Linked DNA regions of Homo sapiens. The protein of the gene in region 3 interacts with the protein of the main gene of each other region in a biochemical or structural test. Each region holds a gene or a part of one and is shown on either strand. Other genes may lie near its edges. The genes, in order: BLK, ABL2, ERBB2 and PTPN11.

Region 1 (7,408 bases), on a different chromosome or scaffold from region 3:
GGATCCCCTGCCTCTGTGGTATGTCTGGACTGCCCTGGGCAGGCAGGGCCTGGCTCTGAGATGAAGATTTCTCAGCACTGAAGGACCGCCTGCCTTTGAGCTGTGAAACTAGTCTATCCTCACATAGACACCAGTAAACTGAGGCTTGAGAGGCTCAAGGACACCCCGGAGGCCACGAAGGGTAGAACTCACTCCCCTGCTTCCATCCCTGTCTTGCATTCACTGCTGTGGCTCGGAGAAGCAGAGGGGTCTTGCTTTGGAGTTGTGTGTGTGTGTGCATATGTACGTGTAAGGTGTGTACATGTGTTGCACACGTGTTCATTGCATCTGTGCATATGTGCACATGTATATGTGTGCGTGTGTGTGTATATGTGCATGCGTGGACATGTGTATGTGTTTGCATGTGTATGTGTGCACACATGCCTGTGTATGCACATGTGTGTATATGTGTGCATTTGTGCATATGTGCATGTGTGTTCATGTGTGCATGTGTATGTGCGTGTGGTGGTGATGATGGTTGAACAGTCCTGCAGCCCTGGTCCCATATGGCCTATTCCCAGCTTGGACTGGCTTCCTGGGGTGGACATGGACAGGAAAAGATGCCAGACTCATAGAGAACCCCTTCTTCCTCCACACCAGATTGGGCAGGGGGTGGGGAGGCTTTCACCTTAGCAATAGGCAATGGTTGAAATATCATTTCCAGGGTGACATGACATGATGTTTGGGATTTACTTCGAAAGAACAGGGGTGGAGCGGGAGATACAGATGAAACAAGACTGGCTCAGTTGATAATTGTTGAAGCTGGCTGTTGGGTACCAGGGGTTCCACTAAACTATTTTCTCTACTTCTGTGTATGTTTGAAATGTCCTGGAACAACAATAAAACACTTATGTCATCTCCAGTGATTCCCAAATTATTTCTTGTACAGAGGTGCTCTGCCACAAAAATGAAATAGTGACAATATCCAATATGAATATAAATATAAAATGCATATATCTATGTGTATGTATATGTATGTATATGCATTCATTGGCATATTCCAAGAAATCCTGCACAGAGCACCCCAGCTTTCCAATGCACCCTTCCTGCTCCCCAACCTGGTCCTGCCCCTTTGTGGGGCACCAAGGCCTCATGATGTCCCCAGAGAATCACAGGGTGCTATGACAGCTTTTCATACTCTGGGTTTCCACTCTGGCTGCTGTTCTTGAGCCACAGATGGAACCAATGGACAGCCCAAGGGTGCTCCCACCAGGTGACAACTCTGTCCATTCTCATCGCCCCAACCACAGGGAACCAGACTCATATTCCAGACACTCTCTCTCCCTTTCCTCCTCTGATGTCACTGTCACCATCTCCTCTCCAGTTAAAATTGGCTACAAGGCTGTACCTGGTCCCTGTGGACAGCTTCCTGATGAGCAAAGCATTCTTCATACTGCCTGGGAAGCCCCTGGGTCACCCTAGCTTGCCACGTTGTAGAGCTTGGGAAGCCTCTCAGCCTCTTAGATGATGTGGTCACTGGTGCTTTGGGCTCTGATGCTTACTGTTGGCCCCCAGCAAGTCACTTCCTGTTTCAGGGACTCCCTTTCCTCATCTGTCAAGTGGATTAGTATCTTACAGACGAAAAGCTAGTGGCCAGTGAGCACCAGGGACCATAATAGGGTTCGGTGCAACACATGCATTAACAGCCCCAAACTGGAAACAACTCAATGCCCACAACATGAGAATGGCTAACTTGACTCTGGAATGGTCACACCCGGGATTCTGTATAGCAATGAACATGAACAGGCTCACCATCCTCAACCACATGAATGAATCTGTTACTGGTTGAATCATGTGCGCTCCCAATTCATATGTTAAAGTCCTAACCCTCGGTCCTGAGAATGTGGCTATATGTGGAGACAGAGCCTTTAAAGGGGTGATTAAGTTAAAATGAGGTCATATGGGTGGGCCCTAATCCAAATTGACAGGTGTCCTTACAAGAAGAGATTAGGACACAGACATGCATGGAGGGACGGCCACGTGAGGACACAGAGAAGACGGCCATCGGCAAGCCAAGGAGAGAGCTCCCGGGAGGAGCCAACGCTGCTGACACTTTGGTCGTGGACTTCCAGCCTCCAGAGCTGTGAGATAATAAGCTTCTGTGGTGGAAGCCACCCAGTCTGTGCCACTTTGTTACGGCAGCCCAGGAAACTAACATAGAATCCCACAAACACTGCTGAGTGACAGAAGCAAGACACACAGAAACAAAAACAGTGATTCTATCTACATCAAGCTGAAAAAACAGACAAGACATGGTGGCGAAACCACAGAGAAGAGCAAGGAAGGATTTCCATCCAAGTCAGGACAGCAGGTAGCTCTTGAGGGTGGGGGTTGAATCAGGAAGGAGCCCAAGTGGGGGAGTGAGGGGGCTCCTGGTGGTCTGGGATGCTCTTTCTCTTGGCTGTCATTACACAGGGATTTGTTTATTATTACCCTATATGATTTAGAATTACACATTCATACTTCATGCAAGCTTTATATGTGTTTTATATTTTACACCAAAAAAATTAAGAAGGAAAGAAAGCCAAATGACAGAGAAAGAGAGAAAACCCCTGAGGGTGATGGCAGCTGTTTTGCTCAGTCAGTGGATTTGAACTCATGAGTGTCTAGACTGGCATGGGCTCCCCTCAATTACCACCCTCTTCTCTTACATCACGGCACAGGCCACTTCCTAACATATGCTACCTGCAGCCTCTGGCTGAGATGATCTTGAAGGATTCTTTGAGCTCCCCCTAATCCTTGATTCCAAAGAGGCTGGTGGTTAAGGGCTCAGGGTTCCCCCTTCCCTGGCCCCCACTGGCCTCGGTGTTCCTGCTGACTGGGCAGCAGGGCCAGTCTGGCGTGGGACCACCCCTGTCCACCCGGCTTCCTGTGCCCAGGTGGTTTCCAGCCGGGACAGGGAGGACTGTGTGGACAGCCCCCATGTCAACTCCCGGGCAGGGCCTGAATTGGGAGGGACACAAGCCCGGAAGCTGCTGGTTCTCCTGGCAGTCACCCCTTCCCCTCTCACTCCAGGGCCAGGCCTCTGGAGGCGCCTTCCCGGGAGGAGCAGGGCAAGGAAGGCAGGCAAAGCCACCAAGCCTACCTTTGTTGGTTTCACTCTCTCTGATAAGAAAGGAGCCGGCCTTGTTGATTGGAGCAAGAAGCTGCCTCTCAGCCTCCTTCCGACCCTGTGATCTAAAGAACCACCTGGAAAACGGCAGGAACAGGTGAAACTCAGAGCGACCCTGCTCCTCGGAGTATTCCCACACAGCCTCCCTCCTGCACTGCCTGTCCCCAAGAAATAAAAATCTAGCATTTCTGGTCCCAGTCGGCCCTGAGCTGCTGCTCCTCACACCGTGATGGAGTCAGTGCCCTCTGCCCCGCTGCCCTTCCAGTTCCGCTTCCTGTCAGCCCTGGACTCACTGTTTTCCTAGAACGAAACAAGAACACTAGTTGGTTGACCTTTGTTAATTTTGCTTTGGAAAAATGCCCCTGATCACTCTCTCCAAAGCACAGCTGCGTATCACAGGCACGTGCCTCCTCCTTGCAGTCTGAGATCTGAATTAGGCAAACTGCCGAGACTCTCTGAGCAGGGACCCCAGTATGTCCCCTTCGGTATGGGGTTGTTCTGTGCAGGACAGCCCCACGGTTCCCCACACTGTTCCAGGGAAAGAAGCGGGGCCCACAGTGTCCAGAGAAGACTCGTTGCTGGGCCTCAGTCCTCAGGCAGAGCTAGTCCCTGTGAGCAGATTCGTGGGGGCTCTGGCTGGCCGAGTCCGAAATTCCCAGTGCCATGGGGACATGGGAGAAGATGGGGGCTGGGGGATTAGAAGATTGGGAGTATTAATCAGTTCTGAACAACGCCACCCTCCTGGGAGCCCCCGAGGGCTGAGCCCTGAGTCCTGCCCATGGAGGCTGTAGGGGAGGGGATGCTGGTCATAGTGCCTCCCTGGTAGCCTTCGAGGCCATCAGACACTGGGGCCGGTTCCATCCAGGGGAGCCAGGAGAAGGACCGCTCTTGTTTAGCTGGGAAGAGCGGCTTGCTCAGTGTCACACAGCAGTCTGAATGTCGTCTGGAGCCAGCAGAGAGGCCTTTCCCAGCAGAGCTCATTTCCTGTCCCCTCTTTGCTAGTGCCTGCAGGCTCCCTGGTCAGTCCCACTCTGGCCCTGCCCTGCCTAACAGCCCAGGGAGCAGAAACAGTGACTGCATCTTGGCTCGAGGGGGGTTCCCGTGCCCACCTACCTTTCCATTTCCAGGCTCTCCACTCGGGCCACAAAGTTACTGGGCACATAGCCTTCTCTTCCTGTGACGAGTGACCTGGCCAGCCACCAGTCTCCAGTTCTAATGGGAGCAGGGGAAACAGAGATGAGATCATGGCCCCTGTAGGCCCGTCACTGGGCAGCTCTCAGGCCTCCTCAAAGTCATCTCTCCCTGGAGGGCAGAGAATCCGCAGGGGTAGAGAGTACGGCAGGCAGGAAGGGGCTTGTGCCCACTGCTCAGTGGTACAGTGGCTATCCGGGCAAGTTCTAGGGGGAAGAGCTTATCTACACAGCCTGACCAGCCAAGAGGGCACAAGGATCCAGCCAGCAGCCTTCCTCTTGATGAATGGGACGTGTTCAGAGCTTGGTGAGGGACTGGGGACAGGCTTGAGAAAAACACGGTTGGCGTGGACTGTATAGAATCAGCAGTCAGGACCTTCGTGAGCTTGGCTCAGGGCCTTTGGAGAACTTCAAGAACCAAATCAGACCCTCAGAGCTCCACAGGACAAGCCTGGCCACTGAGAGAGAGCTGACCTAGAAGGAGTTTCTGAGAAGGACATGGGAAATGAGCTAAAGCGGGATTGGTGTGTGTCATCAGTGTGGGCTCCTGTCTTGAAAAGGAGACAAATATGGACACAACTGGCTTAAATGCAAGGCTTTCACGGAACAGCCAGACCAGCCTGCATAAAGGACAAGGTCCACATGCCCAAAAGAGTCAGGAGGGCTGCATGGAGGCGGTGGCATGGAACGTGGACTTTGAAGGATGAGCAGGAGGTTGTGAATGGAAATTACTTCACCGGAAAGATTTTGGAGAGGAAGACAAAAGGGCCAAGTTCAAGAAAATGCTGGGGCCAGGGCTGGGGGCAGGGCGATGGAGAAGACTTCCAGGGTCAGCCATGGAGGATGTGGTGGGTGGAGAAAGGAGAGATGTGGGGGAGGGGGGTCCTGCAGGGACAGGGGATGGTGTCCTGGAACCTCACCCCTTCAGGACCTGTAGCTTCTCCCCCTTCAGCATCTGCAGGTCCCGATCATTCATAGCGGTGTAGTCATACAGAGCCACCACGAAATGCTTGTCTAAAATGAACAAGGGAGAGATGACCACCACTCAGGCCCACAAGCGGGAAGGTGGGGCTGGGGTGAGCCTGGCTACCAAGGAGGACAGGCTTCTGCTTGCCCACGATGGAAATGATGTTCTCACCCAGCACAGGCCCCCACCCCCAGCCCTGTGACCCCACCAGGGATGGGCTGCCCCCCAGAGCCCATCCTGTCCTCCGTTGTGGACCCACTAAGAAGCCCTATGACCTGGACAAGGCGTGTGTGAGGAAGCTGATGGCCAGAGGTCAGCCACAGGGAGGCAGCCACTGCCGGGCTGCTGGTGGCCTCAGGCCCACATTCGGACATAGTGCTGGGAGCCCTCATCTTCTTATTCTACACCTGCCCTCGGAGGCCCATAAGCCTCCTCTTATCCTTTTCCTCCTCTGCCCCGCCTGCCTCTATCCCCAGTAGGGGTGGTCTTGCCACGTGGCAGCTGGAGCCCTGGCCTCTCCACTGTCTGTGCCCAGAGCCCCAGCCACACTGTCTATGGCTGCCAGTGACCCTGCCGGGCCCCCCACCTTGCTGGCGGGCCCTGGATGGAAGGCAGGAAGAGGGCTCAGGAGCTTGGAGCACCATCTTCAAGTGAGCCCTGCTGTGACGCAGGCTCTCTGCACAGCTCTGGGAGCCACAGGACCCACCTGATGAAGGTCACCTGGAGAGCACTTAGCTTCCCCGGGTGGGGTGGCTCCGCTCTGTCACTGAGCTGAGTGTTGTGACCTCGGGCTGGTCACCTCTTCTCAGCAGGAAAGCGAGGGTCAGAATGGGTGACAGTGGTTCCCTGAAGTTTTAAGATTCAGGTTCTGCTCACAAGTGTGACAGATTCTGAGCTTTTCCAGGGAAGGGGTCGCATCTACCTGTTGTCACCCCTTCGCCATTCCTGGGACAGAGCTGGGCTCTGTGTGCTGAATGCCCAGTACACATCATATGAGCAGGTTAATGGGTGGGGCCCGGCTGGCCGAGGCATCCCTTCCCCATGCTGTGTGGACATGGATGATGAGGAGGCTGCGGGAAGTCACTTTGAAGGAGGCCACCCTCTTGGGAGTCCCCAGGGGTGGAGCCTCTGGCCCAGAAAGGCTGAGCTCATTCCCTACAGTACCCAGCAGGCCAGCCCACCAGAGCAGAAGTGGAGTCTAGGGGCCACGCACAGTGGCTCACGCCTGTAATCCCAGCACTTTGAGAGGCTGAGGCGGGCAGATCACCTGAGGTCAGGAGTTTAAGACCAATCTGGCCAACATGGTGAAACCCCCTCACTAGTAAAAACATAAAAATTAGCCCGGTGTGGTTGTGTGCACCTGTAATCCCAGCTACTTGGGAGGCTGAGGCAGGAGAATCTCTTGAACCCGGGAGGTGGAGGTTGCAGTGAGCTGAGGTTGGGTCACTGCACTGCAGCCTGGGTGACAAGAGCGAGACTCTGTCTCAAAAAAAACCAAGTGGAGTCTGGGGACCAGGTAGGGGCGTGGGTGGTTAGGTGGTCAGCAGCGGGACTCTCGAAGTGACTGGGAGCGGGAAACAAGAAGGTGCCCTCCACATAGAGCGGACAGGGGCTGGAGGCAAGGGCCTGGAGCCACTGGCCCAGCCCTTTGCGTTTGAGAGTTAGCATATTTTAAAACTTGGGTTTGATGATGCTGTGTGTCTTCCCTGGGACTCTTGTTTTTGTTCTTGTTTACAGTTTGTAAAGTCTTTCATGTTTTAAAAGTCCCACCCAGGCTCAGGCATACTGAAGAAACTTGTTCTTGGTTCCTGAAGAGACGCCCCAAGAGGCACAGAGCCGGGGCCTCTCTCAGCTTCCCCGTTTTCTCTTCTCCAGCCCTCAAGCTGCTCCTGACTCAACCTTTTTCCAACTCCACAAAGCTGCCACCTAGGGGAGAGGGCTGTGGAGCCTCAGCTTCCCAAACCACCCTTCTTACCTTCATCCAGGTGTTCATCGGGCGGTGGAGGAGTAAGGTGGTTGAAGACAACCTTGGGTAGAAAACACACACTTGAGTTATTTCAGTCCCTGCTGCGTGGGTGGGGCCTGGGGGTTGAGACTGCT
Region 2 (8,376 bases), on a different chromosome or scaffold from region 3:
ACCTCATGATCTGCCCACCTCGGCCTCCCACAGTGCTGGGATTACAGGCGTGAGCCACCGCACCTGGCCGAATTACTCCTGTTTTTAATAATAACAGTAGTATTAGTAATGGCAGCAGCTACACACATTTAGCTCATACTATGTGCCCAGCCACTATTCATTTAATACTAGGTACTATTATTATCACCACTTTACAAATGAAGAGTCCAAGACACAAAAAGTTAAATAACTTGTCCCAGGTCACAAAGCTCATAAGCAGCCAAGCAAGGTTTCAAATCCAGGAAAAATGGGTCCAGAGTTCATGCCCTTAACAAATACTCCAAAGTGATCTCTCTTCTTTCATCCTCTATCAAATCATAAAGTCCTTTAAGTTCCAAAGGGCAGGGACTCTGTTATGTTCACAGCAACATTCCCACAATCCAGTACATAACAGGTGCTCAAAAAAAACCCTTGTTTGTTGAATGAATGAAAGGACCCTTGAAATTACTCCTCCCATTTCCACTGCCACCACTCAAGGCCAGTCTTTCAGGTAAAGACTAGCCAATCAGGTAAATGGATATAAACTTCTCTGCCAGATTTTCCATAACCCAGTCCCATCCAGCCTATCAAAATTTTCTTTCTACTGCTTCTTAATTAGAATCATAAAATCTTAAAACCAGAAAGTATCTTAGAGATCATCCAGTCCAACCTCCTCACTTTACAGATAAAGAAACCCAAAGATGGTGACTAAAATCACCCAGGCAGGTGGAGCCAGAACCAGAACTTGACTCTTCCAATTTTTGCTCTATGATCTTTTTCTTCCAACTCATAATGATGCTTCATTCCTGACAGCTGTCTCCTCACTAGCCCATCAACAAATTATATCTATTCCCATGTTCCCGTTCAAGTTGTTTCTTCTACCCAAATTGTTCTCCCTCTCCATAGATCCAAATCCTCAAAATGTCTTCCTATTCCATTCTTCATGACTTCCTCTTTCTTGGAAAATCTTACATACCGAATAAGATAGTAAAGCAAGAGGATCACCATTGCCTACTAGGCCAAGTTTAATGCATAGTAACACTTCCCACAAAGTGAAGCTTACTTGGATGATTTCTTCCCTGTAAACTACTAATCCATTCTTCCATCCTGTGTTTTAGGAAGTGATTTTAATAAAGATTAGCTCATATATCACCTTCATAAAGTGTTCATATACCCGAAAGAGACACTCAAGCACATCTTCAATAGGAGACATGTGGCCAGGCGCAGTGCCTCACGCCTGTAATCCCAGCACTTTGGGAGGCTGTGGCGGGTGGATCATGAGGTCAGGCGTTCGAGACCAGCCTGGCCAACATAGAGAAACCCCACCCTACTAAAAACACAAAAAATTAGCCGGGTGTGGTGGCGGGCGCCTGTAATCCCAGCTACTCCGAGGCTGAGGCAGGAGAATCGCTTGAACCTGGGAGGCAGAGGTTGCAGTGAGCCAAGATCACGCCACTGCACTCCAGCCTGGGCGACAGAATGAGACTCCGTCTCCAAAAAAAAAAAAAAAAAAAAAAGAGTTTGGGCCAGGAACGGTGGTGGCTCACACCCGTAATCCCAGCACTTTGAGAGGCCAAGGCAGGCAGATTACCTGATGTCAGGAGTATATGACAAAATCCCACCACCACCAAAAATACAAAAATTAGCCGGGCGTGGTGGTGCACACCTGCAGTTCCAGCTACTCGGGAGGCTGAGGCAGGAGAATCACTTGAACCCGGGAGGCAGAGATTGCAGTGAGCCGACATCCCGCCATTGCACTCCATCATGGGGACCAAAGCGAGACTCTGTCTCAAAAAAAACAAAAACAAAAACAAAACAAAAAAACAAGACAAAAAAAGTTTGGAGACAACTATTCTAAAAATACATTGACAATGAGATCAAAATAATAGGTTTCAGACTACAGGGAGCATACATACATGTATGTATGTATATGGGCACACGCACACACTACAAAGGAAAACTTGTTCATATCCTGACTGACGTCCTAACCATGCCCACCAACCTCTAGCCCTTGCCAGCAATCTCAGAATTGTGTGTCCTACTCTGAAGCATAGTACAGAGGCTTTGGCAAAGCCTTTCATTTCTAGTAAAAACGAAATACAAAACAAAATAAACCACAAAAGCATGTCAAAAGTGATAAGATGATGCTAACTTCATCTTCCCTACAGAAAAGCATTTGACACTGTCCACAGTTCACTATCCTGACACTGCTCATCACCTAACGTAAACACATACCTTGTACTCCACAATCTCCTGAAATTCAGTTCCCATTTCCCAATCCCTTAGGATACAACCCATTTCCCCTTCACTAACGACGGGTTTATGCTCCCACCTCTGGGACTGAGCTAATACTGCCCTTCATCCTTCCCTCTCCTGAAGCTGCCATTCACTTTCTTTCTGCAGCCGCATAGTCCCGTCCCAGAGTAGAGGACAGACCATCCAGGGTCCCCAAACCCACTTCTCTTTCCTTCTCCGCCCCCGGGATCTGCCAGCCAGGCTAGAGACGCGAGGGGGGAGGGGTGTGACTCGCCTCCCAGGACTGGACCAGATGGCAGCGGATTCCGCCCCCACTCTCAGGCACCTTCCACCCTCCGACCCCTCGGGCAGCCCGTCCGCCACCCACCCCGCCCCGACCCCACCCCCGGCCTCCCCCACGCTCTCATGCCGGCTCCCAGACACACTCACCATGCTGGGTGAAGATATTGAAGCCGGTCTCTGTGGTGCGCCCCGCCGGGTCCCGCCTGCGGCCGGAGGGCCTGGCTGCACTGCTGCCCCGGATCCCGCGGGGCTGAGGCTGCTGGAGCCCCGGAGCTTCCCCGACGCGGCCCACCTGCTGCCCCATCCCTGCTCTCGCGTACTCCCGCGCCCCCGCCGACCCCTGGTCACATTCCTCCTCGGCTCCGGCCTCGGGCTCCTGGCGCTGCTCCGGTCTCTCCCTCCCAGCCCAGGCCCTGGCCCTGAGTGGCTGGGCCACCGGCGGCTCCGCACCCGGCCTCCTCACGGCAGCCGCCGCGCTGCCTCCAGGCGACTCACAGATTCTGCTTTTCCCTCCTCCTGTCGCGGCTCCGCGCCCCCAACGCCGCCGCCGCCGCCGCCGCCACCGCCGCCGCCATCTTTAAACCACCGAGCGCTGGGAAAGCGTGGGACAGAGCGTCTCCCGCCCCCCGCCCCCCGCCCCCCGCCCGCCAGTCACCTCCGCCGCGGGGAAGGAGGGCTTCCCGGCTGCCGCCCCGCCCTGCCGCGCCGCGCCCCCCGTCCCCGCCCCCGCCTCCTCGCAGGGTGGGTCCCCCAGTGCCCACCTCATTTGCCGGCCACCGCTGCTTGAGGTCTTTCGTCCTCCGCGTCCTGTCGCCGCACCTCGGCGTCCCCCCCCTCAATCCGCCTCAGCCGACCCCCTCCCGCGTTCGGCTCCACACGCTACCGCCTTTGGGGTTGGTCGGTCTCCGGCCTTCCCCATCCCACCTCCACCTGTCAAATGAGTGAGTCGAGGGCTCAGTGCCACCGCGTGCGCAGCTCAGGTGCAGGCACAGGTGGGGCAGAAAAGCACAAGGCATTTATTTGGTCCTTGCCATCCAGTTAAGGAGCTCTAAAATACCCAGGGGGATCTCTTTTAAACACCCTTGTCAGCAGCAGGCCTCCAGTAAAAATTAAAATGGTATAAAATTTACAAGAAGAGAGTAAAATGCTACCTTATTTGATTTTAATTTTTGGAGATTATTTCATGATGTTAAATCGCACTGGCCTGGATTGTGTGCCTTCTATAGTCTCATTGGGGACGCAATTGTAGCCCCATTCCTCATATTATATTACCATGAATTCCTCTTGAACTCCTTTACCATCTCACCATATGTGAGTTTCTGTTTCCTTACAATGCCTGACAGTAAAGTTAATCTTCCCACTGGCATCCTTTATACACTGTGCACGTGGTCAGGTCTTCTTTTGATGACAAAGGAGAAAAAATATATATCTTTGACCCTGTTTCTGAGTCAGAACTTACTCATTTTAGCTTATGCAGTCTAAAGAGAGTGAATGAGGCAGAAAAGAAGCGTTTTATACATACACATATACTATATACAATTGACTCGCCATCCCCCTCTCCCACTGTGTTTACTTGCATCTTAATTCAATTTTTTTTAATTCTCAAATCTTGATCATTCTCCTGTTATTCTTTTGGCTTCCCAATTTGCTTTATAAAAAGTATCAGTTAATGGAGGTACTACACTGAAATTTTGCTTAAATTAGACAGGACGGGAGCCACTGCAAAGAAGGAACAAAACAACCACTGGAAATGTAGGGTTGGGAGAAGAGGTGGATGAAGCTCTCCTTTGCATATCTTTCCTGAACCAGGTTGACCTTAGATGAACCATCCACTGACGTAGATATTGCCTGTTGTAAAAGCACTATGAAATTATTCCATTGCCATCTAGGGTGTAGCCAGAAATAACTGAAATTAACTCCAAAATGGGAACGGAAACACTATGTGTAAACACTGGATAAAATATGAACTTTCCATTTGGATTAAAGTTTCCCTGTGTTTAAAATACCTGTCTTTTCTTCTAATTCCCAGTGTTTGCAACTACTGAAAAAAATTCATTCGAAAGGGATAAAGATGTCACAGAGCCGGAATTTGGTTTACTGTTTGATTTTTATTATGGGAGAAAATTTTAATTTGGGGATAATGGTTTGGTTTCTCTGCTAATTCATGCATACTATATAAAGATAGATGAATATATGGGTTGAACATCTCAAATCTGAAAATCCAAAATGCTGCAAAATTCGAAATTTTTTGAGCACCAATATGATGCCAGAGGTGGAACATTTCACGTAAGTACTTAACATAAACTTTGTTTCATGCACAAAATTTTTAAAATATTGTATTAAATTGCATTCAAGCTATGTGTATAAAGGTGTATATGAAACATAAATGAATTTTGTGTTTAGACTTGGGTCGCATGCCCAAGATATCTCATTATGTGTGTGTAAATATTCCCAAATCTGAAACACTTGTGGTCCGAACATTTCTGATAAGGGCTGCTCAGCCTGCAGTAGAGTGCAGTGGCTAAGGGCAGGGGCTCTGAAGCCAGACTGCTTGGGTTCATAACTTGGCCCTGATACTTATGGACTATTTGATCTGGGCAAAGTACATAACCTTTTTGTGTCTCAGTACATTATCTGTAAACTGATGATGATAACAAATAGTATCTACCTTATAGGAATATTGTGAAAATTAAATTAGTCAATATATATGTATAGTACTTAAAACAGTATTTGGCATATAACTGGTGTCATATATGCATATACTATTAATACAAAAAACATAATGGTTTTAGGTTTTACAAGCCTAACTTTTTCAAATTTTATATATATATATATATATAAATTTGAGCAATGGCCAGAGGCCAGCATAAAAGATCAGACACATCACCAACAGCAGTAAGGCGTGCTGAAGACACAGATACTCTTCATCCTCATCATCCTTATCACAGGAGCAACACCACTCTCTCCAGAAGGAAGGAGCTTGTGAGTAATGCCTCACCAATCCCTGACTTCACCAGTCTGCATTTCTAGGCTATTGCCATACTTTTTACAGTTTTACAGTATCTCTCATATCTACCTCTTCCCTTCATCTATATAAACAGCGTTATGTAAGACACAGTGTTAGCTTAGGCATCTCTGCGCTGGTTTCTCCCGCTACTAGCCCTTTCTTCCTAGAGATTCCTCACCTTTAGCACCAAGCAACTCACTCAAAGAAACTGCTTCTCTCATTGCTTTGACCACACTCTCCCTCTCATTCATTACGTACAAAGTCTTAAGTCTAAAATTTTCACCTAATGGGCCGGGCACAGTGGCTCATGTTTGTAATCCCAGCACTTTGGGAGGCCAAGGTGGGCGGATCACTTGAGGTCAGGAGTTTAAGACCAGTCAGGCCAATATGGTGAAACCCCGTCTCTACTAAAAATGCAAAAACTAGCCAATCGTGGGGGCGCGTGCCTGTAATCCCAGCTACTGGGGAACCTGAGGCAGGCGAATTGCTTGAGCCCAGGAGGCGGAAGTTGCAGTGACAGGAGATTGCGCCACTGCACCCCAGCCTAGGTGACAGAGGGAGTCTCTGTCTCAAAAATAAATAAATAAATAAATAAATAAACAAAATAAACGTTTCACCTAGTGTTTCGAAGTTATTTTCCAGGATAACTGGATTATAATTGCCTAATGTTCTTCCATCTCCTGTTCCTCCAACCTCCACCTTTCCTATGGCAGGCATACATACTTTATCCAATTAGCCTATTTCTGAGATGTATCCCTTTTAGCTATGAGTTTTGCAATAATTATATTCTCCCTAATATAAGTCTCGAGTGACTCCCTTACAGGATTCTACTGTCCTCTTCAGTATTCTATTCAGATCCTGCCTCCTTGATAAGAGAACCTCAGACTTATTAATACAGACCTAACAGTTTCCTCGGACTCTATTCAGTACAGGCCTTAACCACAACTGGTAATAATTCTTTCGTTATAAAATTCGCTTACCTTCCTCTACATCCCTCAAATATGGTTTTTTGTTTTTTGTTTTTTGTTTTTGATATGGAGTCTCGCTCTGTCCCCCAGGCTGGAGTGCAGTGGCGCGATCTCGGCTCACTGCAAGCTCCGCCTCCCGGGTTCACACCATTCTCCTGCCTCAGCCTCCCGAGTAGCTGGGACTACAGGCGACCACCACTACACCCGGCTAATTTTTTGTTTTTTAGAAGAGATGGGATTTCACCGTGTTAGCCAGGATAGTCTCGATCTCCTGACCTTGTGATCCATCTGCCTTGGCCTCCCAAAGTGCTGGGATTACAGGCGTGAGCCACCGCACCCGGCTGTTTTGTTTTGACACATGACTCAAGTGTCATAGAGTTGGAAAGAAACTTAGAGGTCATGTAGGCTAATCTGGAATCCTCTCTGCAGTAATTCCAGTGAGGGTATCCATTTCTTTCAAAAGGTTCTAATTATTAAAACATACTTCCTGGGCCAGGCGCAGTGGCTCACGCCTGTAATCCCAGCACTTTGGGAGGCCAAAGTGGGCGGATCACAAGGTCAGGAGATCGAGACCATCCTGGCTAACATGGTGAAACCCCATCTCTACCAAAAATACAAAAAATTAGCCGGGCGTGGTGGCAGGCGCCTGTAATCCCAGCTACTCAGGAGGCTGATTCAGGAGAATGGCATGAACCCAGGAGGCGGAGCTTACAGTGAGCTGAGATCACACCATTGCACTCCAGCCTGGGTGACAGAGCCAGACTCAGTCTCAAAAAAAAAGTTCTTCCTAAAGATAAACTGAAAAATGTTCCCCTGAAACTTCCACCTGTTTCACCCCAGTTCTAATTCTACCATGTAGCTACACAGAACAAATATAATCTTTATTCTACATGAAATCTTTCACATATTTGAAAGCTATCATGTTTCCCCAAATCTTTTATTTTCTTGCATATATGCATGTTTATATAGTTATGTTTATCTATCTATATTTATCTACGTGGGCTGAAAATGTTTATGTAGATAAATTGAGAGAAAAAAATTTTGTTGTAATTTTACGTATAGCATTTTCCTTTTTCTTTTCTTTCTTTTTTTTTTTTTTGGAGACAGAATCTCACTCTGTTGCCCAGGCTGTAGTGCAGTGGCATGATCTCGGCTCACTGCAGCCTCCGCCTCCCAGGTTCTAGCGATTCTTCTGCCTCAGCCTCCTGAGTAGCTGAGATTACAGGCGTGTACCACCACACCTGGCTAATTTTTGTATTTTTAGTAGAGATGAGGTTTCACCATCTTGGCCAGGCTGGTCTTGAACTCCTCACCTCGTAATCCACCTGCCTTGGCCTCCCACAGTGCTGGGATTACAGGTGCGAGCCACCAGAGCCTGGCCAGCATTTTTCTTAAACTGTTTATGTACACAGTTCTTTGGACTTTGTTTATGTGATTTGTCTCTGCATTGTTGTATTAAATCTTTAAAGACCTATAGAGTGCCAAATACAGTTCCATTTACAGATTGACACTTTAAAAGTCTTTTTGGATGAGATAACGAGGAGGAGGAGGAGTTAGAAGATTCCTATCTGGCTGGCACAGAATTAGTCATTCTCTTTGAAAGTAGGGAGACAGATTAAATGACCTCTTGTTCCTTTTAGCCCCAAGAGTGTATGATTCAACATTTCTTTGATTTAAAAAACCTTATAAATTATTAGGAGACTATTTCGAACAACTGGCCAAGTGCTGTATAAATGTTACCAGTAGCAATAATATCTATTCATTTAAAATTAATAAGTTATTACTCATTTCCCTTTCAAAGGTAATGAAATAGCTGACTAAACAATCCATTTAACATGTAGCCTA
Region 3 (7,688 bases):
CACATCCCTTACCCCACCTCGGCTCTCTTCCCAGGGGGAGGATGGGTGGCCAAACATAAGATGGAGATGTCACTCTAGAGGGGCTTCTCACAGGTGGAGGGCAGGGAAGGAATCTCTTTCCAGATCATTCCATCACCCAAGGACAGGCACAACTACCCTGGGCCCCACCCCAGCCCTCCCAGCCGCAGCCCCACACTGGCCCCTCACGCTGACACTTCAGCTGTCTCTCTCACCCACAGCCCTGTGTGTCAACGTGGCCTCTGTCCCCTCCTGCCCGCAGCCCCCTGTCATGCTGGTAGGGCCCAAAAGGAAGACAGGCATTGGCTGGACAGGAAGGGAGAGGACTCTGAAGTCAAGAGGGAACCTCAGGGCCCCCAGCTCAGCTCCACTTTCTACAGCCTAGAGAAGTGGATGGAAAGGTCATTCGCCTGAACAAGAGGAGCGCTTCTCCTCCCATCTGGCCACCTGCCTGCCCCTAAGGCTTTGTTCAACCCATTATTGTTGGCTGGAATAAGACTCTAACCACCTCTTAATGCCTCCTCTTCAGAGTCCAAAAATTCCCTGGACATTACTGGGTAGCTGGGAGCCTTGGATAAGTTGCTTCATTTCTCTGAACTTCCATTTTCTCATCTGTGCACCTACTTCACAGGACTGTCACAGAGATTAAATGAAAGCATGGATAAAAACCTAGCATATAGGAAGTACACCGTACATTTCTTAAAAGTTAAGACAAGACAGGTTCATACAGCAGGAATATGGGTAATCCCAAACCACGAGAAAATTAAACATGCTTTGTGTTTGACTTTGGAATGCCACGTATTTTTTCTTTTTACATTTGATCCCTATCTTTTCAATTGTTTTTTTCTTGACAAATAAAATGAGTACTTTCCCCAAGTATAGTAAAGAGAGGAGGCTGTTGGAAGAATCATACTGGAATTAAAATATGAAGGAGTTCTGCAAGATTAAAAGGATGTATTTGCTGCAATTTGTAAAACCCATACCTCTAAGAAAGGATTTCAGAAAAATCCTGACCCCTCTGGGGCTCCCCCTAGGCCTCCCCTTCCCCCACATTCCTGCCCCAGACCTCACCCCTTGGGTAAAATCTGGGTGCTGGAGGCAGCTGGGTGGTATACTTTTTTTCTGAAACGGAGTCTCACACTGTCACCCAGGCTGGAGAGCATTTGCAATCACAGCTCACTGCAAGCCTCAACTTCCTGGGCTCAGGTGATCCTCCTGCCTCAGCCTCCGGAGTAGCTGGGACTACAGGCACGTGTAATCACATCCAACTAATTTTTGTATTTTTTGTACAGAGTTTTGCCTTGTTGCCCAGGCTGTGCAATGACTTTTTAACTAACTCCTGCACAACACAATCAATAGTGCAGGTTGAGGGGTGAGGACATGAGGAGGCCCCATCCAGAGAACCCAGCCCTCAAATCCAGCTCTGCAGCAACTGCCATTCCCTGATCAACTCCCAGCCCAAGGTGAGGAAGGGCAGCAGCTCAGCCTGACAGCTCAGTATGGCCTCACCCTTCTCATCAGAAGATGAGAGGTGAAGATGCTTGTCTGGGAAACAGGGAGGGCAAGGATGTACTCCCTGGAAGAGAGGAACCTTCTTCCTCAGCAAGAAGGCGTGGCCATAGAAGGCTACCTCCCTCTGTTTATGGCAGATCTGGCCCAGCACCTTAAGGGAGTTCCTGCAGAGGACAGAGTTCAGCCTGTGTCCCCAAGTCAGCAGAGAGACTGCTGTTTGGCAACACAAAGCCCAGACACACAAATACAAAGACCACACAACTGAGGAACACCCTGGCGTAGACCTGCAGAGATAACACGGCCATGCACTCACTCACAGAGGGCCCCTCGGGCAACACACAGCCACGATGACACCCACTCCCTCCCCAGACCCTCTGACCTATGGAGACCACCCACGACTCCCAGAACACTTTCATTTTGTCTCCCCTGCAGCCCAGTGACTCAGGGAGCAGTGTCCCTCATTGCTCCAGGTGCACTCATCCATATAGCGATTTCGAATGCATGGTTGGGGGTCGCACTGCCTGGGGTCCCATCTTGACCCCACCACTTACTAGCTGCTACTCAACCTCTGGACTGCTACTCAGTCCAGAATGCTGGCAGAACTTCCACTATAGGGGTGTTCTAGGATTAAAGGAGAATGCATGCAAAACACCACAAACAGTTCCTGGCAGAGTATACCTGGCCCAGGCTATATGTTAGCTTTTATGATTAATGCACACAGGTGGACAGATGGGTCAGGATACACACTGCCCCCACTCACCCTTCCCCACGCACAGCACCAAGGAAAAGGCAGCAGAACAACGCAGCCCTCCCTAGGCTCCCATCTGGCCTTATTTCTTAGCTTCCTTCTCTGGGAACTCTCCCACTTTACACCCCAAGAAACCCACCCCCACCCCTCCATGGTCCACGCGCTCCAAAAGTCACAGAGCACAGTCCCTAAGCTGGCCCCAAGAATCTGTTCAAAGCAAACGTCTCCCCCGCCCCCAACCCAGACCCCAGCAAGAGGCCACCCTCCGGGCCACCCTTTCCTCCCCGGCTCTGGTTGGGACAGGTTGCTATGCCACCCTCCACTCCACCACACACACACACACCCGACCCCGCCAGAAGCAGGAGCAACCAAACCAAAATCGTCTGAAGGGGAGCGGGGAGGGGCTGGAGGAGGGGCAGGGCAGAGGACCCCCCCAAGGAATCCAGCCCAGGCCAGTCCGGAGGCGGAGGCTGCCAACTGGAAAGGCTTTGAGAAAGCTTGAGGGGGCTCAAGAAGGGGGGAAACGCGCGCGCGCGCTCTACGCAATACACCCTTTGCGGGAAAACTTTCTGAACAATTTCAGAGAACTTCTTTGACAAGTTCCCGGAGCCCCTCGGAGCCTGGAAAGCGCCAGTCTCTTGGATGGGCCATCTCGAGCCGCTGCCGTGTAACTGCCCCCTCCCGCCCGAGGGCCCCAGGGCCCGGCTGCCCTGAGCGTCTCGACTGTCCACAACTTCGGGATAGGAGAGCTCGTCCGGGCCCCTCTGGCCCCGCCGGCCGCGGGACCTCGGCGGGGCATCCACAGGGCAGGGTCCCGCCGCTGCTCCGTCCCCTCCCCACACCAGACCCACCTTGGGTGCTCGCGGCTCCGGGGGGCAAGAGGGCGAGGAGGAGCCCCCAGCGGCACAAGGCCGCCAGCTCCATGGTGCTCACTGCGGCTCCGGCCCCATGGCTCCGGCTGGACCCGGCTGGGAGGGCGCGGGGCGCGGGGTGCTGCGAGGGGTGGGGGCCGGGCGCGCGGCGCAGTAAAGGGCCCCGTGGGAAGGGGCGCGCGGCTGCCCGGGGGGCTCCCCTGGTTTCTCCGGTCCCAATGGAGGGGAATCTCAGCTTCACAACTTCATTCTTATACTTCCTCAAGCAGCCCTCCTCCTCCACCTCCTCCTTCTCCTGTGATTGGGAGCAAGCGCGCTCCCAGCTCGCCCCCTCCAACTGCATTCCAACAAGTCTGGGAGTGGCAACTCCCAGCTTCACTTTCTCCCTCTCTTCGCGCAGGCCTGGGTGCGTCCCTCCTAGCGCCGGGACGCCTGGGTTGCCTGCAGCCGTTCTCACACTTTTCCTCGGAGAATCCCTAAATGCAGAGGCTGGTGACTCTGCCCCCTCCCCCGGAGTCCGGGATAAATTCCCTAGGCTGCCACTCTTAACACCCTTTTAAGTCTCAGGTTTTATCTTAAACTTTCCTGGGGAGCTTGCATCCTACTCCATCCCAAGCCTATTTGTTTTAATATCAAATAATGGTTTTCCCACCACATCCTCTAGTAAAATTGATAGTCAAGGAGGGGGATGTGTTGTGTTTACCTTGTGGCTTCCAGGACCCCCGGGGCATATCTTCTGGAATCTTTGAAGTATCTGAAAAGCATGATCTTAAGAGGGTCTACAAATTTGGGAGGAGACAGTCACATCGAAAGGACTTTTTTTTTTTTTTAAACGAACTTTTGCTCTTGTTGCCCAGGCTGGAGAGCAATGGCGCGATCTCTGCTCACCACAACCTCTGCCTCCCTGGTTCAAGTGATTCTCCTGCCTCAGCCTCCCGAGCAGCTGGGATTACAGGCATGTGCCACCATGACCAGCTAATTTTTTGTATTTTTAGTAAAGACAGGGTTTCTCCACGTTGGTGAGGCTGGTCTTGAACTCCCAACCTCAGGTGATCCTCCCGCCTCAGCCTCCCAAAGTGCTGGAATTACAACCACGAGCAACTGCACCCAGCCCAAAAAGACTTCTATCTCAATTCTTCAAAATGCACCCTTCTTGCTTATTTAAGGAGGCACCCAGCACCCAATGCATTCAAGGTTTCTTCTTTGCCCCTTGCCTTCTATTAGCCTGCTTAATTCCACTTCTCAACCACATTCTATTTGGAGCCCCTGACCCTATTCCTTAGGCCTAGTGGTAGGGGTGGGGATGGAAGGAAGACTTTTTTTTTTTTTTTTAATTTCAACAAGATATTGCATGGGACATATTTATACTAACAAATTATTCATTGTTTATCTGAAATTCAAATTTAACTGGGCCTCCTTATTTTTATGTGCTAAATTTGGCAGTTCTAGTTGGAATGCCCCAGCCAAGAATGCAGCTATACTGGTCAAGAAGGGATCAAAGGCACCTATCAGGGACTGGAGAATGAAGGACACCAGCATCTCTTTCTCTCTTCCCTCCCCCCCATCTCCCACACCTCTTTACAGGTATACACTTGCATTTCTAAACTTGCTTCCATGTGCTGAGCACACTTAAAGCAGGCACCTCTTGTGGGACAGGTTGCTATGCCATCCTAGGGAGTTGAGAAACAGGGGCCTCTGGGACCAAGAGGACCTGGGTTCAAATCTTGAATCTGGCCAGTCGCGGTGGCTCACACCTGTAATTCCAGCACTTTGGGAGGCCGAGGCAGGCAGATCACGAGGTCAGGAGATCGAGACCATCCTGGCTAACACGGTGAAACCCTGTCTCTGCTAAAAATACAAAAAATTAGCCAGGTGTGGTGGCGGGTGCCTGTAGTCCCAGCTACTCAGGAGGCTGAGGCAGGAGAATGGCGTGAACCTGGGAGGCAGAGCTTGCAGTGAGCTGAGATTGCGCCTCTGCACTCCAGCCTGGGAGACAGAGTGAGACTCCGTGTCAAAAAAAAAAAAAAAAATCTTGACTCTATTCCATATCAGTCATGTCACCTTGGGCAAGTGACTGAGCATCTCTGGTCTCAGTTGGCTCATCTGTAAAACAGCATCTGACATACTATGCTGGGGTTAAAGGAGATAATGCTCTGGAAGCACTCAGCGCAATACTTGGCACATAATAATTGCTCAATAAATGGTCCCAGATTTAGTTATACTGGGGCAGATCTAGGTTTTGTGGGGCCTGAAGCTTATATAATTTGGGAAACTCTCTTTAAGAAAGTAATACAAAGTTGGCCGAGTATGGCGGCTCATGCCTGTAATCCCAGCACTTTGGGAGGCCAAGACAGGCAGATCACGAGGTCAGGAGTTCGAGACCAGCCTGGCCAACATGACAAAACCCCATCTCTACTAAAAGTACAAAAATTAACTAGGTGTGGTGGCAGGCACCTGTAATCCCAGCTACTCGGGAGGCTGAGGCAGGAGAATTGCTTGAACTCAGAGGGCAGAGGTTGCAGTGAGCTGAGATCTTGCCACTGCACTCCAGCCTGGGTGACAGAGTAAGACTCCATTGAAAGAAAGAAAGAGAGCAAGAGAGAGAAAGGAATTGAACAGAAAAAGACCCTAGCACGGCTGGGTGCGGTGGCTCATGCCTGTAATTGCAGCACTTTGGGAGGCCAAGGCAGGTGGATCACCTGAGGTCGGGAGTTTGGTACCAGCCTGACCAACATGGAGAAACCCTGTCTCTACTAAAAACACAAAATTAGCCGGGCATGGTGGCGCATGCCTGTAATCCCAGCTACTCGGGAAGGCTGAGGCAGGTGAATCGCTTGAACCTGGGAAGCGGAGGTTGCGGTGAGCCAAGATCGCGCCATTGTACTCCAGCCTGGGCAACAAGAGCGAAACTCTGTCTCAAAAAAAAAAAAAAAAAACAAAACAAAAAAACAACCCTAGCACATTCATATAGTAAGGATAAGGTGGAGTTTTGTACAGGTATCCAGAGTGATAATGTAAAATTAACTTATTCCTTGGACCGCTGTCACAAACATTCGAGAAATATTGCTGTGTATGGAACACAGCAGCCCTTCTGGATGGCCATCAATATCCCTATTTTCTCTTGAGCTGGTGTTAGGGTTAGGGTGAGGATCAGGGGAACTGAGGTAAGCAATTTGCCCAGGATGTCTTAGGGCTAGAGAGAAAAGTTGGGCATGTATCAAAACTGACCCCTTACTCTCACCCCATCATCCAGCCCAGGACCTGGTCAACCTGCCTCTCAGTCCTGCAGCTTACAGCCCTGCGGGAAGAGGATGCGCTGACCTGGCTCCAGGAGTCACTGGTTCATCACACCACACCTTGGAGGGCTTGCACCTGGATGAGTGTGCAGGCAGCCTTAGAGGCCATCGGGATGTTAGGATCAGGGTTAGAGGTGTCCTTTCTCCCCAGGCCCCACCCCTGCCCTGCTGTTGTGTCCGGAAAGGTTAGTCCAGTCAGGAAAGCTACTGTGGACGCCATGCTTCATTGGACCCTACTCTGTGCCACTCTGACCTACAGCCACGTTCCTCAGAACACTGAGTCCCCAAGACTCCAGAGGAGGCAGGTGTTATCATTCCCCATTTTGCAGAAGAGGAACCTTGAGCCTTGAGATTCCACGAGCTAAAGGAACTTTCCCAAGGTCACAGAGCTGAGCTGGGAACTGAGCCATGGCAGATTTGGCTTCACCCATTACCCTCAAGAGCCCCAGTCAAGGGTACCAAGAGGGGAGACAGAGGAAAGAAGTCCAGGTAACTGTAGGTCCCTCCCTCTACAAAGATCCTGCTTCCCCCCTTCACTCTCCACCCCCCCGCCCAAGCAAACCCATCCTCTCTGCATCCCAAATCCCAGGAAGAAACCCGGACTGGCAGACAATGCCCAGTCCCGGTGGGCGGTAGAGAGGGTGGAGCAAGCTGGAGAGGGGGCTGGAGTGGGGATGGGGGGAGGAGCTGGGGTCAGAACTCACGCCCTGGGGAGGAGGCTCGAGAGGGGCCGAGCCTCTGAAAAAGAATGAGCCCATTCAGAGCTGGGAAGCCAGAGGAAAAAACCTCGTCTGGTGTCTGACAAGAGGAGAGGAAGGGGGGCAGGGGTGGGCGCTGCTGATTCGATTTCCTCCTTAACTGTCCCTCCAGCAGGGCCTGGCAGGAGAGCCCAGGAAAGAGGATGTCTGAGGGACAAAGACAGCGAGGGGGACCCTCAGGGAAGGGAAAGGGGTGCTGGTGAGAGGGGTCTAGCTAGGGGGCTGGGGAGAGGGAGTGGGAACAGAGTGGGGCTGACTGCGGGACAGAGGGCAGCAAACTCAGATCAGGGCAGATGCGTGTGTTTTGCCCAAGACCCCAGCCTGTGGGCAGTGGAGTGACCACTGACACTGAAGAGGCAGGACAGGGCTCTAGCTTCCGAGGGTGACCTCTAAGTCAACAGGCTGGGGCTGCAACCAGCGGCCTGTGAAATGCCAGTCAATCATTGACCAGCCATGGAGACTGGGGGGCACAGGAGACGTGTGT
Region 4 (7,408 bases), on a different chromosome or scaffold from region 3:
AATTTGACAGACACCACCTTATTCAAGTGATCAAAGTTAACACCACTAGTAATGAATCAGATCAACAGTGTGTACCTGATGTGATGTACTAAGAAGACTACAACAACATTTCTGTGACAGTCCTGCCAAAAATGCATGACTAGAATATAGTCAAGAGAAAACACTGGACAAATCCAAACTGAAAGGCATTCTGCTAAATAGCTGGCCTAAACTCTTCAAAAACATCCAGGTCATGAAAAATAAAGAATGACTGAGAAACTGTTCCAGATTAAAGAGACTAAACATACTAATAACTGGCCAGGTGTGGTGACTCACGCCTGTAATCCCAGCACTTTGGGAGGCCAAGGCGGGAGGGTCACTTGAGCCCAGGAGTTCAAGGCCAGCCGGGGCAACACGGCGAAGCTCCATCTCTACAAAAAATACAAAACTTAGCCAGGCATGGTGGTGCACACCTGTGGTCTCCAGCTACTCGAGAGGCTGAGGTGGGAGGATCACCTGAGCCCAAGGAGGTCAAGGCTGCCGTGAGCCATAATTGCACCACTGCACTCCAACCTGGGCAACAAAGTGAGACCCTGTCTCAAAAAAAGAGAAAAAAGATACATTATAGCCAAATGCACTGTGTGACCCTGGACCCATAAAAGATACTAGCAGGACAAAATTTGAAGATGGTCTGTAGGTTAGATAATAGTGTTATATCAATGTTAGTTTCCTGATTTTGATCACTGTATCAAATAATTGTGACATTGGTTATGTAAGAGAATGCCCTTATTTTTAGAAAATATACACATTTTAGAATGTGTAGGCTTAGATTATTCATTTTTTAAAATGAAATGATATTTAGAGACAAAGGGGTATAAATGTTTGTAACCAACAAACATTTTACTTTTTAAAATTTACATTTTTAATTTTAAACAGAGAGAATAAACGAATGATAAAGTTAAGTGTGCTAAAAAGTTAACAGTCAGGAAAGCTGGGTAAAGAAAATTCCACAGACTGCTTTTGCAAATTTGAGGGTTTTTTTTTTTTTTTCACTACTGTAGTTGGAAGTTAACAAAAAAGTCTACCTCCAAGGAACTGGCAGAGTGTGAGAACTGTTTATAAAAACTTGAGAATTTTCTCAATCTTGCTTCGTTTGCACTTTCCCCTGGATTCCCACATCTGATTTTATATTCTTCCTTCCTTGTGCTGTTTCTTCTCTTCCTTCTCCACAGCTCTTCACCCATCATTCCTTTTTTTCACTGATCCTTCTTTAGCAAATTCTTTCACTCCCAAAGGTCCTGAACACTTCATAATTTTAGAAATGACTGTATTTTAGAATAACCAATTATCCTGAATGAGTTTTGTTCTTTTGCTTCATTTATAAATCAGCTGGGTTTAATGTTATGTCTGCCATTTAAACTTTCTACTAAATTAAGTACTTCTTACTTTACCACAATCAGCCAGCAAGCCAGTTCCCAGATTGATTCAAACCACACAACGCAGAAAACTATATATTGCAGGATTTCATTTTTTAAAATAAATAATTGAAGCCTACACATTTTTAAAACCCAGAGGTCACTGGGCTCAGTGGCTCACACTTGTAATCCCAGCACTTTGGAAACCCAAAGTGGGAGGGTTGTTTGAGCCCAGGAGTTCAAGACTAGCCTGGGCAACACAGTGAGACCTTGTCTCTACAAAATAAAGATAAAAAAATTAGCCGGGCATGGAGCCACAAATTTGTAGTCCTAACTACTCAGAGAGGCTGAGGCAGAAGCACTGCTTGAGCCTAGGAATTCGAGACTAGCCTGGGCAACATGGCGAAACTGTGACACTACAAAAAATGCGAAAATTAGCTAGGTGTGGTGGCGCATGCCTATAGTCCCAGCTACTTGGGAGGCTGAGGTGGGAGGATCGCTTAAGCCTGGGAGATTGAGGCTGCAGTGAGCCATGATTACACCACTGCACTCCAGCCTGGGCAACAGAGAGAGACCTCTCTCTCAAAAAAAAAAAAAAAAAAAGACATCCCTGAACATGCTCCAACTTGTAGCAACTATGTTACATTCTCTTTGTATTTACTAGGAGATCCTTCTCTTTGGGCAACTTTTTGCCTAACTATTCTTGAGCCAAATTAAGTATAATGGAAGACAGATATAAAATAAAGTAACCGTCTAAATATTTCATATCAGTTAATACAAATTCAGATTTAAAGCACTGAGGTTCAAATTTTGACCTTACATTTCTATACATACACTGTTTCTGAAGATGTCTATGTACAATAAAACAATCCCGTATGTCTGTGCGGACTGAAAACCTACTAAACTAATTAGCAAGTACCTTCCTTTGGCCAACCAAACTTTGATAACGTGGCTGCTGTTCTGCTAGGCTAGAAATCTTTCAAATACTGGTGGCAGGTCCCATTCTGAAAAGAGCTCAGCATTTGGAGAAGCTGAGTTCTCTGGAAGGCAACGAGCAGAGTAATGCAGGCACTCGCCACTGATGTTTAGACACCACCCCATCTGCAGCATGGCAATGGGGTTGAGGGGTTGGGGAGAGAAGCACAGCCCCCAAAAGAGCAGCTCTCCTCATTTCCTTCATCTCAGCATATTCCTAATTAACTCAGCTTTGTGCCTGTTATGAATAGCTTCAGATGGAAAGGCTCCAATTCCACATTCCTCTTCATTATGCACAGCTTATTAAAATTGAAATTTCACTGTTTCCAACTCGACCAAATTAGTGGTTCAAACTGCCGTGCGCTATTAAGAGTGAGGCATTCGTTTTAAAGGATGGAATCAGGATAAACATGGCCTGGATCAAGGCTGGAACAGGCTAGAAACTTCAAGGCTTTGAGTTTTACGCTTGCCACATGAGCCTGAGAACATCAGAACCTTTCTGCATGGCAGTTCTTCAATCTGGCAGGCCAGGCTGATAGGATGGTGCCCTTCCCTAAGCTCCTCTGCAGTGAAAAATCAGAGCTGAGAAGTGGAGAATAATTGACAGTTTCCAGAGGCCCTTTTAGTTGGGAGTTTGTTTCCCATTCCGAAATCAAACAGTTGTCTATCAGAGCCTGTCCTCCTGCTCAAAAGGAGAGCGTATCCAAGAGGCCTAGCAAGAGAATGAGAATCCGCATGCCAGCCCTCAGGCTGGTACCTGCTCTTCTTCAATCCTGCGCTGTAGTGTTTCAATATAATGCTGGACCGCCATATAGATAAATCGGTACTGTGCTTCTGTCTGGACCATCCCTGACCTCTGAGACCGCACCATCTGGATGGTTTTGGGAACGTCAATATCGCAGTCAACACCTACGAAGGAAACATCATGAAGAATAAAGAGAAACTGCAGAGCCAGGATGAAGTTGTTTAATGCACAACTTTTAGTGGACTCAGAGACAATGCTAATTTAGTCTTTGCTGTTTTAACTGAGCATGTTGCAATGGCTACAGTGTTGAACTTCTGACCAATACCAATGATCCCAGAAGACTACATAAATAACGAAGTGGCAGAAGTCAGGATTCCCTCACTTGCCAACAAATCACCCCATACTGTAAACAAGGTCAGGTGGCTGGATAGAGACCACCACTGTGTATGCAACAAAAGGCCATGGCAGTGGGTTCTGCAGCTCCTAGACTTCATTTTATGCCAAAAGCTCAAATAGTGTCACTTCTGTTCTCAGGCAGACACACTGAAGTCTTCAGCCCAGATTTTTGTGAAAGAATTTTCCCATTCAACCTCTCTTCCCCAGACTGTTTTCGTGAGCACTTTCCTTCCATAAACTAAAAACAGAAACTGTCGCTTCTTGCCCACCAGATGACCCACCTTTCTCTCTGATGATGTCAATAAGAATATCAATCACAATGAACGTCCCTGTCCGGCCAATTCCAGCACTGCGGGCAGAAGGACAAAAAGCAGGGACAACAGAATCATTCATGGGGGTTTCAGACTCAAAACCAAGCCATTAATATCAACAGAAACAATGTCTACTCTTTGGAGCTATTTATAAAATTGTCTATTTATGTTTGAAAATATGTTGGCAAAAAGCATAGGGCTTTGGAGTCAGCCCAAACCTGCTCTTGGAGTTCAGCTTCTCCAGTACAACGTGCCTGAGGTAAGTCCCTTAACCTCTCTGACCCTTAATTTCTGCATCTGTGAAATGGGGACAACAGCACATACCATACAGAGTGCTGGTTGGACAGAATGAAACAGGAATCATATACAAAAAAATACATCAAAATTACTGAAAGAGGGCCGGGCGCAGTGGCTCTCACCTATAATACCAGCACTTTGGGAGGCCGAGGCAGGAGGATCACTTGGGGCCAGGAGTTCCAGACCAGCCTGGCCAACATAGCAAAACCTCGTCTCTACTAAAAACACAAAAATTAGCCAGGCATGTTGTCACGTACCAGTAATCCCAGCTACTCGGGAGGCTGAGACATGAGAATTGCTTGAACCCAGAAAGCAGAGGTTGCAGTGAGCTAAGATCGCTCAATTGCACTCTAGCCTGGGTGACAGAGTGAGACTCTGTCTCAAAAAATAATAATAATAAAGTTATTGAAATAGAAGAAGTAAATAATTTTAAAAATTAAAAACAAAACAAAACAAAAAACATTGTGCTCAGAGGCTGGCTCAATAAATGGTAGCTTCTTTAACAACTGGACAAATAAACACTTTCACATATATCTACTTGCCCAAGAAATGAATGAGATTTAGGAAACCCAATATTCCCCAGTATAATCATGAAGCCCAAACTGGAGAATCAGCAGCCCACAGACTCATTACAGAGGTCACAGCACAGCTTCCATCAAAGGCCTTGGTGGAAAAGCAGCTGGAATCTTGTGAAGCAAACAAATATAGTGTTAGGGGAGAAATATATTTATGGTAGAAGAGAACAGAATGGGCCGGGCATGGTAGCTCATACCTGTAATCCCAGCACTTTGGAAGGACAAGGCAGGTGGATCACCTGAGGTCAAGGGTTCGAGACCAGCCTGGCCAACATGACAAAACCTTGTCTCTATTAAAATACAAAAATTAGCCGGGCGTAGTGTCAGATGCCTGTAATCCCAGCTACTTGGGAGGCTGAGGCAGGAGAATGGCCTGAACCCGGGAGGCGGAGGTTGCAGTGAGCCAAGATGGCACCACTGCACTCTAGCCTGGGCAACAAAACAAGACTCTGTCTCAAAAACGAAAAAAAAAAAAGAGAGAGAGAGAGAGAGAACAGAATCACAATCAAAGAGATGAATCATAGAAGAGTAGAAGAAAAGAAGGAAAAAGAGAACCAAGCAAAAATGACTTAAGGGATCCTCAAGAGTCAGGCCTATTTCCACCACACCCCCACCACCTCAATACCTACAAAGCAGTCAACAGCTACAAAGCAAACATCATGAAGAATAAGGAGAAACTGCAGAGCCAGGATGAAGTTGTTTAATGCACAACTTCTGGTGGACTCAGAGATAATGCTGACTTAGTCTTTGCTGTTTTAACTGAGCATGTTGCCATGGCCATGGCCAATGGCAGTGCTGTAGGGTCTAGGAGAAATATGCCTTGGGATCAAAATGTCCCTCAATGCAGTTGCTCTATGCCTCAAACAGATATTAAATTCTTCCTACAGTTAAAGAGCTAGGAGTGGGTAGGTAAAAGCAAGCCCTGGGCGCTAGGAGACAGGGACAGGCTGTGGCCTAGAGGGGCAGCAGGAGCTGTCACCTGCAGTGCACCACGACCGGCCCTGCATCCATGATGCTCTCCTGCTTATGGTGCACCTCCTCCAGGAAGTCCAGCACGCCCCCAGGGTCGCTGGGCACGCCGTGGTCCGGCCAGGTCCGAAAGTGGTATTGCCAGACCGTTCTCTCCGTATTCCCCTGGAGTAGAGCCAAGAAAAACCAGAAAAGAATTAAATAAATCAAGAGGTTGAGGAATCACCCGGTTCTAAGCTTTCCTAAATCCAATGGAGAGGAAGAGAATCTCCCCAGGTTCCACTGAAAGGTCCTCTTCGTGAGGTTCCCAGAACTCGTCTCCTTTTGGGCAATCCTGGAGGCAACTCTTTGCCTCTGTCATAAGAACCAAGACGTCTGGCATGGCAATTTGTTCTTTCAGGTAACTATACCCTGAATCATCTCTCTGAATTACCAGCGACAGGTAACATCCCTATTCCCCTGCATCCCTGTGGCACTCAGCTCTGGAGGCAACTGAAACCTCTAGGGATCCAGGTCTCTCCTCCCAGCAGAAGAGGAAGCAGATGGGGAAACAGGCATTCACTTAAGACATTCATTCCTCTTTGTTATTTTTTTGATACTCAACCTTCCCCACCATATAAACACAGACTATAGTATCATTCTTTTTTTTTTTTTTTTCCAAGACAGAGTCTTACTCTGTTGCCCAGGCTGGAGTGCAGTGGCGTGATCTTGGCTCACTGCAACCTCTGCCTCCCGGGTTCAAGCCATTCTCCTGCCTCAGCCTCCCAAGTAGCTGGGATTACAGGCACACATCACCATGCCTGGCTAATTTTTGTATTTTTAGTAGCGATGGGGTTTCTTTCGCCATATTGGCCAGGCTGGTTGCAAACTCCTGACCTCAGGTGATCTGCCTGCCTCGACCTCCCAAAGTGCTGGGATTACAGGCGTGAGCCACCCAGCCTGGCCAGTATTGTTCTATTTTAAACTTATATTTAATGCAAAGCAGATAAGAAAACAGGCTTTGCTATCAGATGACTAGATTTAGGCTCCAATTCCAGGCACTCACACTCACGTGGCCCTTGGGTATCTCTAAACCTCAATTTCTTCATTTTGCAAAATGCAAATAATAATCTCTTTCTCTCTATCATAATGCAATTTTAAGGACTCAGTGAGCTCGCTGAAATACTCAGCCTCTGCCCAGCAAATAGGAAGAGACTCAGCACATTATGGCTATTTTGAGGATAATGATAATTAATAAAGATCAACAATGGCACCAAGGCTACAGAAAACCAAAAAGTATCATGTTTCTGGGTCTATCCAGATGACGTAATTGTAGCAGCACCATTCATTCCTACATCTTCTTCCTATATATGTAGAGACAATCTAAGCTAAGTGACTTTTTTTTTTGAGACAGAGTCTCACTCTGTCATCCAGGCTGGTGCACAGTGACCTGATCACAGCTCACTGCAACCTACGCCTCCCCGATTCAAGCAATTCTTGGGCCTCAGACTCGACTCCCGAGTAGCTGGGACTACAGGCATGTACCACATCCAGCTAATTTTAGTAGAGAAGGAGTTTCGCCATGTTGGCCAGGCTGGTCTTGTACTCCTGACCTCAAGTAATCCACCCACTTCAGCCTCCCAAAGTGCAGGGATTACAGGCATGAGCCACTTTGCCCAGCCTTAAGTGACATTTTTAAAAGGGATGTAAAAGGACACTTTTCTCTTTTTTCTTCTTCTTTTTTTTTTAATTTTTTTATTTTATTTT

Evidence for each region.
Region 1: the proteins of ERBB2 (region 3) and BLK form a complex in vitro, tested with the Homo sapiens proteins (2 studies listed by BioGRID and IntAct, with this or other methods).
Region 2: the proteins of ERBB2 (region 3) and ABL2 form a complex in vitro, tested with the Homo sapiens proteins (3 studies listed by BioGRID and IntAct, with this or other methods).
Region 4: the proteins of ERBB2 (region 3) and PTPN11 form a complex in vitro, tested with the Homo sapiens proteins (2 studies listed by BioGRID and IntAct, with this or other methods).

What each region holds. Positions count from the first base shown.
Region 1 is NC_000008.11:11,545,979-11,553,386, reverse strand, and holds part of BLK (tyrosine-protein kinase Blk), read right to left. Parts: intron 7,336-7,408; coding exon 7,284-7,335; intron 5,356-7,283; coding exon 5,262-5,355; intron 4,364-5,261; coding exon 4,265-4,363; intron 3,229-4,264; coding exon 3,125-3,228; intron 902-3,124; exon of another isoform or gene 1-901. UniProt on the Homo sapiens protein: Non-receptor tyrosine kinase involved in B-lymphocyte development, differentiation and signaling. B-cell receptor (BCR) signaling requires a tight regulation of several protein tyrosine kinases and phosphatases, and associated coreceptors.
Region 2 is NC_000001.11:179,226,538-179,234,913, forward strand, and holds the start of ABL2 (tyrosine-protein kinase ABL2), read right to left. Parts: upstream 3,141-8,376; 5' UTR 2,861-3,140; coding exon 2,704-2,860; intron 1-2,703. UniProt on the Homo sapiens protein: Non-receptor tyrosine-protein kinase that plays an ABL1-overlapping role in key processes linked to cell growth and survival such as cytoskeleton remodeling in response to extracellular stimuli, cell motility and adhesion and receptor endocytosis.
Region 3 is NC_000017.11:39,695,753-39,703,440, reverse strand, and holds the start of ERBB2 (receptor tyrosine-protein kinase erbB-2 isoform a precursor), read right to left. Parts: upstream 3,378-7,688; 5' UTR 3,203-3,377; coding exon 3,130-3,202; intron 652-3,129; exon of another isoform or gene 527-651; intron 1-526. UniProt on the Homo sapiens protein: Protein tyrosine kinase that is part of several cell surface receptor complexes, but that apparently needs a coreceptor for ligand binding. Essential component of a neuregulin-receptor complex, although neuregulins do not interact with it alone.
Region 4 is NC_000012.12:112,484,894-112,492,301, reverse strand, and holds part of PTPN11 (tyrosine-protein phosphatase non-receptor type 11), read right to left. Parts: intron 5,840-7,408; coding exon of another isoform or gene 5,828-5,839; coding exon 5,673-5,827; coding exon of another isoform or gene 5,669-5,672; exon of another isoform or gene 5,379-5,668; intron 3,860-5,378; coding exon 3,792-3,859; intron 3,279-3,791; coding exon 3,127-3,278; intron 3,119-3,126; exon of another isoform or gene 2,314-3,118; intron 1,285-2,313; exon of another isoform or gene 878-1,284; intron 1-877. UniProt on the Homo sapiens protein: Acts downstream of various receptor and cytoplasmic protein tyrosine kinases to participate in the signal transduction from the cell surface to the nucleus. Positively regulates MAPK signal transduction pathway. Dephosphorylates GAB1, ARHGAP35 and EGFR.